2 linked regions of the Homo sapiens genome follow. The protein of the gene in region 1 binds, or shares a complex with, the protein of each later gene. Each region holds a gene or a part of one and is shown on either strand. Other genes may lie near its edges.

Region 1 (5,517 bases):
AAGGATCCTAAACTTTGGACATGCAAAGCTTTTCATTTCTCCTAGGTCTTAAGTTCCTTAGCTTGATGTTTTAAATGTGTGTGGGGCAGGGGGTATAGGCAGAAAAATTTAATTGGTTCATACCGTTATTTTTTAAAACAGACATAAATATGGCCAGGTGTGGTGGCTCACGCCTGTAATCCCAGCACTTTGGGAGGCCAAGGCAGGTGGATCACCTGAGGTCAGGAGTTCAGGACCAGCCTGGCCAACATGGTGAAACCCTGTTTCTACTAACAATACAAAAAATTAGCTGGGGCTGGAAGCGGTGGCTCACGCCTGTAATCCCAGCACTTTGGGAGGCCGAGGTGGGCGGATCACGAGGTCAGGAGATCGAGACCATCCTGGCTAACACGGTGAAAACCCGTCTCTACTAAAAAATACAAAAAAAATTAGCCGGGCATGGTGGCAGGCGCCTGTAGTCCCAGCTACTCTGGAGGCTGAGGCAGGAGAATGGCGGGAACCCAGGAGGCAGAGCTTGCAGTGAGCTGAAATCGCACCACTGCACTCTAGCCTGGGAGACAGAGAGAGACTCCGTCTCAAAAAAAAAAAAAAAAAAAATTAGCTGGGCACGGTGATGGGCGCCTGTAATCCCAGCTACTTGGGAGGCTGAGGCAGGAGAATCGCTTGAACCCGGGAGGCAGAGGTTGCAGTGAGCTGAGATTGTGCCACAGCACTCCAGCCTGGGCAACAGAGCAAGACTCCGTCTCAAAAAAAAACAAAAAACACTACCTCTCTATTCCCACTGCTTGACTAGCCAGGCTTAACAGGGAAAAAAAAGCATTAGCACATGGCCACCTTTCTCCTGATGGGAAGAATCTTCCACCATTCTGCTTGGCAAAGTTCTGAAGCTGGACTATAGAGGGGAGACCAAGAACTCACCTTCTTCTGCAGTTTTGCCCCCCAGTGTGAGGAATTCTAATACCTGTTGCTTCATTGGTTTCTACAGATAATTTAGCTAACTAGCTAGCTAGGCAGGGAGCAATCTAATCCACCTTGGTACTCTTCTTCTTCTCACAGGTTGAGTCTCCTTCTCAGATGGATGTTGAATTGGTGAGTGGGTCTCCTGTGGCACTCTCACCCCAGCCTCGATGTGTGAGGTCTGGTTGTGAGAACCCTCCCATTGTGAGTAAGGACTGGGACAATGAATACTGCAGCAATGAGTGTGTGGTGAAGCACTGCAGGTGAGCTTACAGTTCTCCCTTTTATAATTCAGCTACTGGTCAATTCTACTGGGAAACATAGGAATCTTGAGCATAAAATCAGCATCTCAGTGTCACCTTACCTTAGGTAGAGTAGGTTGCTGTATCTGGTCTACTAGAAAAGCTCCCCTGCTTAAGAGCTTACATTTGCCACATAAGCCAAAGATGATGTAATCAGCAGTTCACATTTTTCAGTTACCACATACCTCTCTTATGTATGCTCTTTAAAAATATAATACATTAAGCTGTTAGTGTTTGCAAATATTAGCTTTTCAATTCTTGGTGCAAATCAGACTACTTAGGGAACTAGAATTTGGGGAGAAATGGTAAGTGGAAAGTAACACATAATAATTTGCAATTTGTGAAGGAAATGGGGAGATGGTTGGAATATTTTACCCCTCTCCCCAAATTTTCCTGGGAATTTCCTATAGCTGTAGGACAAGGCATTTCTATTTCCTATTTCAAAAACTCTGCAGTAAATTAGCATTGCCTCTACTTCTGACTTTTAAGCCCACTGTTCTTATATTTTCAAGGTGATACTATCTCACCATAATGCTGTAGGAAATTATCTGGGAACCTATTTGTTTAAGACAGATAAAAAATCCAGCTGGGCCATACAGTGAAACCCCATCTCTACTAAAAATACAAAAATTAGCCGGGCATGGTGGCAGGCACCTGTAGTCCTGGCTACTCAGGAGGCTGAAGCAGGAGAATCTCTTGAACCTGGGAGGTGGAGGTTGCAGTGAGCCAAGAAGATCACGCCACTGCACTCCAGCCTGGGCAACAGCGAGACTCCATCTCAAAAAAAAAAAAAAAAAGATAAAAAGAATGTAGCGGCCGGGCGCGGTGGCTCACGCTTGTAATCCCAGCACTTTGGGAGGCCAAAGCGGGCGATTCACGGGGTCAGGAGATCAAGACCATCCTGGCTAACACAGTGAAACCCTGTCCCCACTAAAAATACAAAAAATTGGCCGGGCATGGTGGTGGGCACCTGTAGTCCCAGCTACTCGGGAGGCTAAGGCAGGAGAATGGCGTGAACCCATGAGGTCCGTCTCAAAAAAAAAAATGTATCTAGGCTGTAATTCTATTTCAGTTTGTGTATAATTCTGTTTGTGTATGTCTTTTTCTCTCTTAGGGATGTATTCTTGGCCTGGGTAGCCTCTAGAAATTCAAACACAGTGGTGTTTGTGAAATAGTCCTTCCTGTTCTCCAAGCCAGTGAAGAGTTATCTGCTGGGAAAGTGTCCAAGAGCCTGTTTTTGAAACACAAGCTGGGCTTCTGGTAGTGCCTCATCACAACCCATGATGGCTGTTCATGTTTCACCCCTTTTCTTCCTTCAGCAGAGGCCAGGCTATGGAGCAGGGCCACTGAATTTGCTGTAATCTGGAGATGCTTTTTACTTTCAACCATAAGCGGTAATAGCAGAGGAAAGGGTGAAGGGAGTCTGGGCAAGCAAAGCATAGAGATGGTGGGGTGGTGGTGGGGTTGAAGAAACTTGTTGGTATAATTGTCATAGGACTTGCCTAAAATATTATTAAAATTACGGGAGTGTACTCAGCTTTGAGCCTAGGAGAAAATGCCACTGTGTGCATCCATTTTAAAGGGTTCCCTCATAAAAAAATGTTATTCCCCATTATCACATCAGTACACTGCTTTGAAAACAAAACTTTTCAACATGGGCATACTGGGCTACATGGAAAATGACATCACCCAGGAGTGATTTCTCTTTATATATATTATTTCTGCAGTTACCATCCTTATCTGAGTTATCACAGTTCATGAATCTAAGAGGCGGAACTCTACATCATTAGTAAGAGGTTCCACCAAAGTCTAAAGTTGTATTCACTTGTGTTTGATGAACTATCTTTAAAAGACCATAGGTCTATCATTATTTCTTAGACATAATCTAAAGAAAAACAGACTAGAGAAGCCACCTGGTTGTAACAGAATAAGCAGAAGTTTACAGCATGATAGTCCAAGTGGTGATAACTTTAAATAAAACTCAAATTTTTACTGTTTGTAGACAGGAATGCTGTCCTAGAGAACCTCCTCCTCAACCAGCTACGTACATAGTTTTATCCTATGCATTCCTGTTTTCTGTGTGTTTTTTGTTTTTTTTTTTTTTTTTTTTTTTTGAGACAGAGTCTCGCTCTGTCACCCAGGCTGGAGTGCAGTGGTGCGACCTCAGCTCACTGAAACCTCTGCCTCCCGGGTTCAAGCGATTCTCCTGCATCAGCCTCCCGAGTAGCTAGGATTACAGGCGCCCGCCACTACGCCCAGCTAATTTGTGGTATTTTTAGTAGAGACAGGGTTTCACCATGTTGGCCAGGCTGGTCTCGAACTCCTGACCTCATGATCCGCCCGCCTTGACCTCCCAAAGTGCTGGGATTACAGGCATGAGCCACCGCACCCAGCCTGCATTCCTGTTTTTTTAATGGTTTTGGAGGGTAGCAGTAGAGATGGGGTCTCACTATGTTGCCCAGTCTAGTCTTGAACTCCTGGGCTACAGTTACCCTCCTACCTCGGCTTCCCAAAGTGCTCGGATTACAGGTGTGAGCCACTGTGCCTAGCCTATAATGATCATTTTAATGTTTCCCATGCACTCATTTAGTTTGAACCTTCACAGCAACCCAATGAGGTAATACTCCCATTTCACATATAATACTGAGAGATGAGTTGCACAAGATTATACACTGTTAAGTAGCAGAGCCAGAATGGACTTCAGAATCCCAACTACAATACAAATGTTTATTTAAATAAAGAAGAAAGCTATTGTACAAATATCACTCTTCAGGTTTAGCTTACAGAGCCATGGCTATGGATTCTTAGCTCTGTAAGGAAGTGCTTCTATAAATTCTTAGGTTTAGAGATGATACCATCTGGGTACCTTTGCTTGAACCGTGCAACCACATCTGGGTCTAGTAGGTGGATCCCATCCAGTTGGTTTCCAAGGGTGATCCTGAAACAGTGTAAAAGGAGGGGCAAACCAGAAATCCTGGAATTAGAGGGTTTAATATTGTTAAAAAATGCATACCAAATGAAGACTGCCTATCATCATATCAAATATGCCAATTCTAAAAAGAGCTTAACATTAGAATAGTATATGGTAGAATTACTAGTTCAGAATTGGCATAGATTCTGGTGTTAAAATAGACTGGATCTGTATTATCTGAGGGTTAGTAACTAATGCTTAGCCAGGCCTGCTTCACAGAGTTGCTACCAGGGAGTATTCTTTGGATAAGCAAAATGCTAGCAGCATGTGTTTTAAGCTCTGTTAAGGGGTGAAAGATGTAATTATTGACAGATTAAATAGATAACTTCGTAACCACCAGGGGGCAGATTCAATACATCACAGAATGGCTGAGGAAGATCCTTGGGTTGTGAAGAGAGTAGAAACCCTAGGGAGCAGTGCTTTTGGGTCCTAGAACCTGTTGAGTTTCTAATGAATATTTGTAGAATCTCATAAAACAGTTTAAATACAAGCTTAAGTGGCTTATGAATCCTGTGAAGCTCATTTATGGACTAGTGTAAAACAATGTGAAGCTCTACTAAGTTCTGTCCTTAATCATAAATAATAGCCCCTTGAGGACTAGCCTGTTCTCTGGTCACCTTACCAGTTGGGTTGCACATTGTGTGGTCGTCCAAATAACTCAATCTTGCGAGTGCCAGGAGATAGTCTTTCAATCATGCCATAGATTTCATCTGGTTTATGACTGGTGGAACGAACCTAGGAAATAAAAACTAGCTGCTTTTTAAGTTACACAAGATTGCAATTCTAGCCCTTTCTATTATGTTTATGATCTAAATGAGAAAAATCTGGGATGAGAATACACCCAACATGAATAACTGATACCAACAAAAATGTGGAAGCTTTGGAGGCCTGGGAAGCACATACCTCAGCTACGATCACATCACAATCCAGACCCTGGTTGAAGCCTTGGGGATTTCCTTTGACACCAACCTGCTCACCACAGATAACAGATTACCTTATGAAACCACACCTTTGAACTTTTTCTCAGTAAGAAATCAAATGATTCTTCTTTGTGCTCCACCTATTGAATTGGGCCCCACTGCTGCTCACCAAGCAGTGTTCCTTCCCATGGTTCAACCAGTGACCTGTACGGCCTGTCCGAATGATGCGTTGCAGTTGATTTGTCTTCACCCAAATAATTTCATCTACCCGTTCATACCTGTGGGGCATAAAAAAGAACTAGAATTTTAGCCAAACTTTTACAGTTTAGGGGTAGTACCATTTATAGAAGCAAGGAATCACAGAATA
Region 2 (7,041 bases), on another chromosome or scaffold:
CTGATCTCGTGATCTACCCGCCTCAGCCTCCCAAAGTGCTGGGATTCCAGGCATGAGCCACTGCGCCCGGCTCAACGTGGATTTTCTAAGCACAAAGACATTCTTATGTAACCAGAGCACAGTTATCCAAATTAGGAAATTTAGTACTGATACAATACTACAGGGCATGCTCTTGAGTTTTCTCTGATCAATTAATTGTAACCTTGTTTCATTATCTGTGGTGAAGGAGTGGCCTGGTAGTTAGGAGGGAACTGGGTACTAGTTTGGCCTGTGACTAGGTATGTGACATTGGTCAGATTACTTCTTTGGGTATTAGACAACCTCTTTAGTTTCCATTCTAGGCAATAATATGATGAAAAATTTTGTCACTAGTATAGGTCAAACCGACCTCAGAAGAAAAGAAGTATTTCCTTGGGAAGGCATGGTATTGTATCTTTTATTTATTTATTTTTTTGATAGGGACTTTCGCTCTTGTTGCCCAGGCTGGAGTGCAGTGGCTCCATCTCGGCTCACTGCAACCTCCGCCTCCCGAGTTCAAGCGATTCTCCTGCCTCAGCCTCCTGAGTAGCTGGGATTACAGGCATGCGCCACCACACCTGGCTAATTTTGTATTTTTAGTAGATGCGGGATTTCTCCATGTTGGTCAGGCTGGTCTCGAATTCCCGACCTCAGGTGATCCGCCGCCTCGGCCTCCCAAAGTGCTGGGATTGCAGGCATGAGCCACTGCGCCCGGCCTTTCTTTTTGTTTGTTTGTTTGTTTTGTTTTGTTTTGTTTTTGAGACTGCCTCACTCTTTCCTAGGCTGGAGTGCAGTGGCGTAATCTTGGCTCACTGCTGCAACCTCGCTGCTGGATTCAAGCGATTCTCGTGCCTCAGCCTCCCGAGTAGCTGGGATTACAGGCACCCATCAGTGTGCCTGCTAATTTTTGTATTTTTAGTAGAAATGGGGTTTCACAATGTTGGCCATGTTGGTCTCAACATCTTACCTCAAGTGATCTGCCCACCTCGGTCTCCTCGGCCTCCCAGAGTGCTGGGATTACATATGTGAGCCTCCGCACCCGGCCCTGTTTTTTTGTTTTGTTTTGTTTTGTTTTTTTGTTTGTTTGTTGTTAAGACAAAGGTCTTCCCCTGTTGCTCAGGCTGGAGTGCAATAGCATGCTTATAGTTCACTAAAGCCTTCATCTTCTGGGCTCAAGTGATCTTCCCACCTCAATCTCCAAAGTAGTTGGGCCTACAAGCACTCGCCAACTTACTTGGCTATTTTTATTTTTAGTGGAGACAAGTTCTCACCAGGTTGCCCAGGCTGGTCTCAAACTCCTGAACTCAAGCGATCCTCTCACCTAGGCCTCCCAAAGTGCTGGGATTACAGGTGTTAGCTACTGTGACCGGCCGAAGGCATAGTATCTTTATTAGATGACCCTAGTGTTAGAATTTGGGAGTTTGAAAATGGCTAAAGCAAGATTTTGTGTGCTTAGTATTTTCCAGTTTACTGGTCATTTAAATTTTCTTTACAATGGAGTTCGCCCATTGAGTGATATTTCAATTTGGAAGAGTATAAAGGATATTGTTTGTGGTAGGTGAAGCAAATTACTCAAAGTGAAAGGTTAATATTATTTTCCTTGTTGATGCTTGATCACCAGAATTATAGTTTGAGGAAGGAAGCTTACCAAAATATTTGAAAAATGTTGTGCATGTATTTTGTAAGACCCACATGGATGCAGTACAGTATAATCTTGCTTTCAAGTTAGGAAATGAGTCCAGGTGTGGTGGCTCACACTTGTAATCCCAGCACTTTGGGAGGCCGAGGCGGGTGGATCGCCTGGGTCAGGAGTTCAAAACCAGCCTGGACAATGTGGTGAAACCTTGTCTATACAGAAAAATACAAAAATTAGCTGAGCCTGGTGGCAGGGGCCTGTAATCCCAGCTACTCAGGAGGCTGAGGCAGGGAGAATTGCTTGAACCGGGGACGCAGAGGTTGCAGTGAGCCGAGATCGTGCCTCTGCACTCCAGCCAGGGTAACAGAGCGAGAATGTCTCAAAAACATAAAAATAATAAAAATCAAATTGGGAAATGAAATGAGGCAGTAGATTTCTGTTATCAGGAAAAAAAATCTCAGGTTAGTGTTTTTGATAAATTTGAGACAAATAGACCAGATCTAAGTGGAACCAGAAATTTTCCTTACACTATTCTCTTTCAACTTGTCAAGTTAGAGTTGGCTCTTCATGTTCTGTCTTTTTTTTTTTTTAAGACGGAGTTTCGCTCTTGTTGCCCAGGTCGGAGTACAATGGCGCGATCTTGGCTCAATGCAACCTCCATGTCCCGGGTTCCAGTGATTCTCCTACCTCAGCCTCCCAAGTAACTGGGATTACAGGTGCCCACCACCACACCTGGCTAATTTTTTTAATTTTTAGTAGAGATGGGATTTCACCCTGTTAGCCAGGCTGGTCTCAGACTCCTGACCTCAGGTGATCCACCCACCTTGGCTTCCCAAAGCCTGAGATTACAGGCGTGAGCCACTGCGCCCGGCCAGTTTCTGTCTTTGCTATTGTAGATGGGATGAAATAACTGATATAAACTTCTTCCACTGGTAGCAGAGTCAACTATGTAGAGAGTAAGTATACAGCCACACACTGAGACTGCCTCACTGGTTACCACACAGTAACCCCACATCAGAACCCCAGACAGTGCACTTGGCAAAGTAGCCTTTGCTGATCTTTTTAGGAGTGAAGTGTTATTTCAGTAAAGGTAAGAATGTGGAAAATCCAGTGTATTTGTAGTGAGAAGTCTGTTGGAAATGGGTTTCATGTAGGGAAGCCCTTGGCCTCACTTTAACAAAAATTGAAAGTGCAAATAACTGACTTCTTAAAGACTGCTTGAGTCGTGATTGTTTAGTACCTAGATTCTGAGAGGATTTTACATTGAGAGGATTAGCTTTCCTTTTCATAAATTGGAACTCTTGGTTAACATTAGTACAGGATTTATGAAATCTTTCTAAAGAACTAAATGTAGGACATTATGTTAAAGGCTTTCCTGTTTTTTCAGTTGATCGTATTGGAGAGTTATTTTAGCATTTGAATCTAGATTTACATAGATATTTAAGTCTCAAATTTTTATTTTTCTTTTTTTTTTTTTTGAGATGGAGTCTTGCTCTGTTGCCCAGGCTAGAGTGCAGTGGCGCGATCTCAGCTCACTACAATCTCTGCCTCCCAGGCTTAAGTGATTCTCGTGCCTCAGCCTCCTGAGTAGCTGGGACTACAGGCGTGGGCCACCACACCCAGCTAATTTTTGTATCTTTAGTAGAGATAGCGTTTCGCCATGTTGGCCAGGCTGGTCTCAAACTCCTGACCTCAGGCAATCCACCCTCCTCGGCCTCCCAAAGTGCTGAGATTACAGGCGTGAGCCACCACGCCCAGCCTAAAATTTTTCTAACTTAACCAGTATGTGTTAGAGTTTTTGGTTAAAGGTTCTGTTGAGACCAGTTTTAGCCTTGCTCTTCAAGGTTCTGTAAAGGGAGACATTTAAGGAACTTCAACAAATGGAGATTGATAACCTCTAGCTTGGAAATGTGTGATTTTTTGTCTGTTATTGAGGTGGAGTCTCACTCTGTCGCAGAGGCTGTATTGCAGTGGCACGATCTTGGCTTACTGCAACCTCTGCCTCCTGGGTTCAAGGAATTCTCCTGCCTCAGCCTCTTGAGTAGCTGGAATTACAAGTGTGTGCCACCACACCCGGCTAATTTTTGTATTTTTAGTAGAGACGGGGTTTCACCATGTTGGGCTGCTCTCGAACTTCTGACTACAGGTGATTTGCCTGGCTCGGCCTCCCAAAGTGCTGTGATGACTGATGTGAGCCACCACCTTGTGGCCAGAAATGTGTGATTTTGCTTTAAAGTAAAAGCAAAGGAACTATTTAACTGGTTTTGCTAGAGAAAGTTAGGCTTGCCTTCTAAAAGGCTCAGCAAGCGCTTTTGACCTGTAGGATAGGAAGGATGGATGTCTTCTGCAAGAGCAGGTTACATTAGCAAAGGCAAGCAGTTTTGCATCTGGTTTCAGTTTTGAGGAATCACTGCCGTCTTGAAAAAAAAAAACACAGAGCTTCTTTCTAAATGGATGTCTTGAGAAGAAAAGTTTGGCCTCTTGGGTTTGACATATTCTCATATCCCTCTTTGTTGTAAGTTAAGACTTGTTTTGTGTGCCTTTCTTCCCAAGTAGATGTACAGCCATGCATCACTTAGATGGGGATCATCACGTGAGTTTTTGTTGCAGCAGCATCATAGAGTGTACTTACACAAACCTGACGGTATAATCTGCACACACCTAGGCTGTTTGGTATGGCCCATTGCTCCTAGGCTACAAACCTGTACAGCATTTTACAGTACTGAATACTGTAGGCAATTATAATATAGCGTTAAGTGTTTGTGTATCTAAACATAGAAAAGGTGCCGTAAAACAGTTTAAGGGATTTAAAAAATGAAACATCGGTTGTAGAGGGCAGCTCTATTATAATCTTATGAGACCATTACCCTATGTGCTGTCTGTTGTTGATAAAAATGTCATCACATGGCACATGATTGTATTTTTTCTCAAAGCTTTTGAACATTGTAGTAAAGACTGAATTGAATCCCCAGATTTACTTTTACTTCCCACCTAACCTTGCCACTAGGTGTTCTAAGGTGGAAAGCTTCTTCAGATGGCTGTTGCTTGAGCGTTGTTTTTTCCCTTTTGGAAGAAGTTGTTTCTTTCCAGTGTTAGAACTTACCAAAAATCCTCACCTTTGCCACATCATTCAAGTGCTTCTCTTTATGTGGAGATCCCAGATTTTGATGATGGAGAATGTTCATGATTTTCTGTCTCTATTTTCTTATCAGACCAAAGAGAACCCTGTACAGTAAGAAATATGGTGTGGACCTCATCAGATACACTCATGCAGCAAACACAGTTGTTTACAGCTCTAACAAAATAGACGGTAAGCAAGCCTTTTTAGGAAGTTAAGGTCATGGTTTCCTTTGTTAAATAGTTCATGGAATCTTTGTGACTACTTCTGCTTTGTGACTACTTTAGTTTAAGTATTTTCATATAATGTTAGTAATGTTAATTGCATTGTTTTGACTGAAGGAATGCTGGAAGCAAGCCATTGGCACTTTTGAAGGACTTGGGACTGAGTATGAAAAGTCTTCAATTCAGAGTGGGGAGTGGAAAAAGGAAACAACTAATTGTGTTTATGATTTGTACTTCCTGACACTTAAAAGAACGCTTTTAAAGCCGGGCGTAGGGGCTCGCGCCTATAATCCCAACCTTTGGGAGGCTGAGGTGGGCGGATCACTGAGGTCAGGAGTTCAAGACCAGCCTGGCCGATATGGTGAAACCTTGTCTCTACTAAAAATACAGAAGTTAGCTGGGCACAGTGGTGCACGCCTATAATCCCAGCTACACAGGAGGCTGAGGCAGGAGAATCTCTTGAACCCGGGAGGCAGAGGTTGTGGTGAGCCAAGATCACGCCATTGCACTCCAGCCTGGGCGACAGAGTGAGACTCCATCTCCAAAAAGAACACTTTTAGAACAAATAAAAGGAAAGAACACTTGATACACAGCAAGTGATAAACAACAGGACTTTTTCTTTTAAAATGATAGAGATTTGAGAAAAGTTTCACAAATGCTTGAACTATGATAGTTTAAGGGAAGTTAGAACAGTTTTGGTGTTTTCCCAACCTTAGTCACTTCTGATTCCAGGAACGTTTTTTGATCTAAAGAGTAGAGTTACTTTTAGAAATTGAACTTGTGAGTTTCTTTCTATAATAAACAATCTCTGTTTTTGCCTGCATGTCTCGAGATAAATCCTAAGTTAACAGATTGTCTTGGTAACTGAACTGTAACACTTATTTTCATGTTAGAATTCTTTAATTTTTTAATTTTGTTTATTTTCTTTTGTTTGTCTGTTTTTATTTTTTGAGACAGAGTCTCACTCTGTTGCCTAGGCTGGAGTGCAGTGGCGCGATCTCAGCTCGCTGCAACCTCCGCCTCCCGGGTTCAAGTAATTCTCCTGCCTCAGCCTCCCAGGTAGCTGGGACTACAGGTGCATGCCACCATGCCTGGCTAATTTTTTGTATTTTTAGTAGAGACAGGGTTTCACCATGTTAGCCAGGATGGGTCTTGATCTCCTGACCTTGTAAGCCACCGTGCCCGGCCTATTCTTTATTCTTTTGAGACAGAGTCCTGCTCTTGTTGCCCAGGCTGGAGTGCAATGGTGCAATCTCGGCTCACTGCAATCTCAGCCTCCTGGGTTCAAGCGATGCTCTTGCCTCAGCCTCCCAAGTAGCTGGTATTACAGGTGCCCACCAACACGCCCGGCTAATTTTTGTATTTTTAGTAGAGTTGGGACTTCACCATGTTAGTCAGGCTGGTCTCGAACTCCTGACCTCAAGTGATCTGCCTGCCTCATCCTCCCAAAGTGCTGGGATTACAGGTGTGAACCACCACGCCCGGCCAGGATTCTGTTTTTAAACTTATTTCAGTGGATTATTGATGATCATCTCACATTTTGCAGTAAGGTTTTTTTTAGGCCGGTGGCTACATAGTGGCTCATGCCTGTAATCCCAGCACTTAGGGAGGCCTAGGAGAGTGGATCACTTGAGCACAGAAGTTCGAGATTAGCCTGGGCAACTTGGGAAAACCCCGTCTCTACAAAAAATACAAAAATTAGCCAGGTGTGATGGGACGCGCCTGTAGTCCCAGCCACTTGTAAGGCTGAGGTGGGAGGATTGCTTGAGCCCTGGAGGTCTAGGGTGATCACACCACTGCACTCCAACCTGGGTGACAGAGCGAGGCTCCATCTCAAAAAAACAAAAAAGATTTTTCTAATGTCATTCCACAAGGATAGCTTATACTGCTATTTTGGCTGTGCCTATCTCAGAGCAGAATGGGCGGAAGTCCTTTTTTCCATTTTTTTTTTTTTTTAATGAGACTCTTCTGCCTGTATTGATTTTTAGTTAAGTATGTCATTTCTACTTTTCATGCCTGTATTTCAGAAGTGGTTTTCTAAGGAA

Evidence for each region. Proteins that work in one complex are often made in the same cells at the same time.
Region 2: TOX4 (region 1) and WDR82 share a complex: the UniProt entries of both Homo sapiens proteins name them as parts of the PNUTS-PP1 phosphatase complex.

What each region holds. Positions count from the first base shown.
Region 1 is NC_000014.9:21,494,173-21,499,689, forward strand, and holds the end of TOX4 (TOX high mobility group box family member 4), read left to right. Parts: intron 1-1,056; coding exon 1,057-1,220; intron 1,221-2,373; coding exon 2,374-2,434; 3' UTR 2,435-4,085; coding exon of another isoform or gene 4,086-4,197; 3' UTR 4,198-4,852; coding exon of another isoform or gene 4,853-4,965; 3' UTR 4,966-4,998; downstream 4,999-5,517. Other genes in the region: N(6)-adenosine-methyltransferase catalytic subunit METTL3, read right to left, coding at 4,086-4,197, 4,853-4,965, 5,134-5,199, 5,320-5,428. UniProt on the Homo sapiens protein: Transcription factor that modulates cell fate reprogramming from the somatic state to the pluripotent and neuronal fate. In liver, controls the expression of hormone-regulated gluconeogenic genes such as G6PC1 and PCK1.
Region 2 is NC_000003.12:52,268,635-52,275,675, reverse strand, and holds part of WDR82 (WD repeat-containing protein 82), read left to right. Parts: intron 1-4,866; coding exon 4,867-4,964; intron 4,965-7,041. UniProt on the Homo sapiens protein: Regulatory component of the SET1/COMPASS complex implicated in the tethering of this complex to transcriptional start sites of active genes.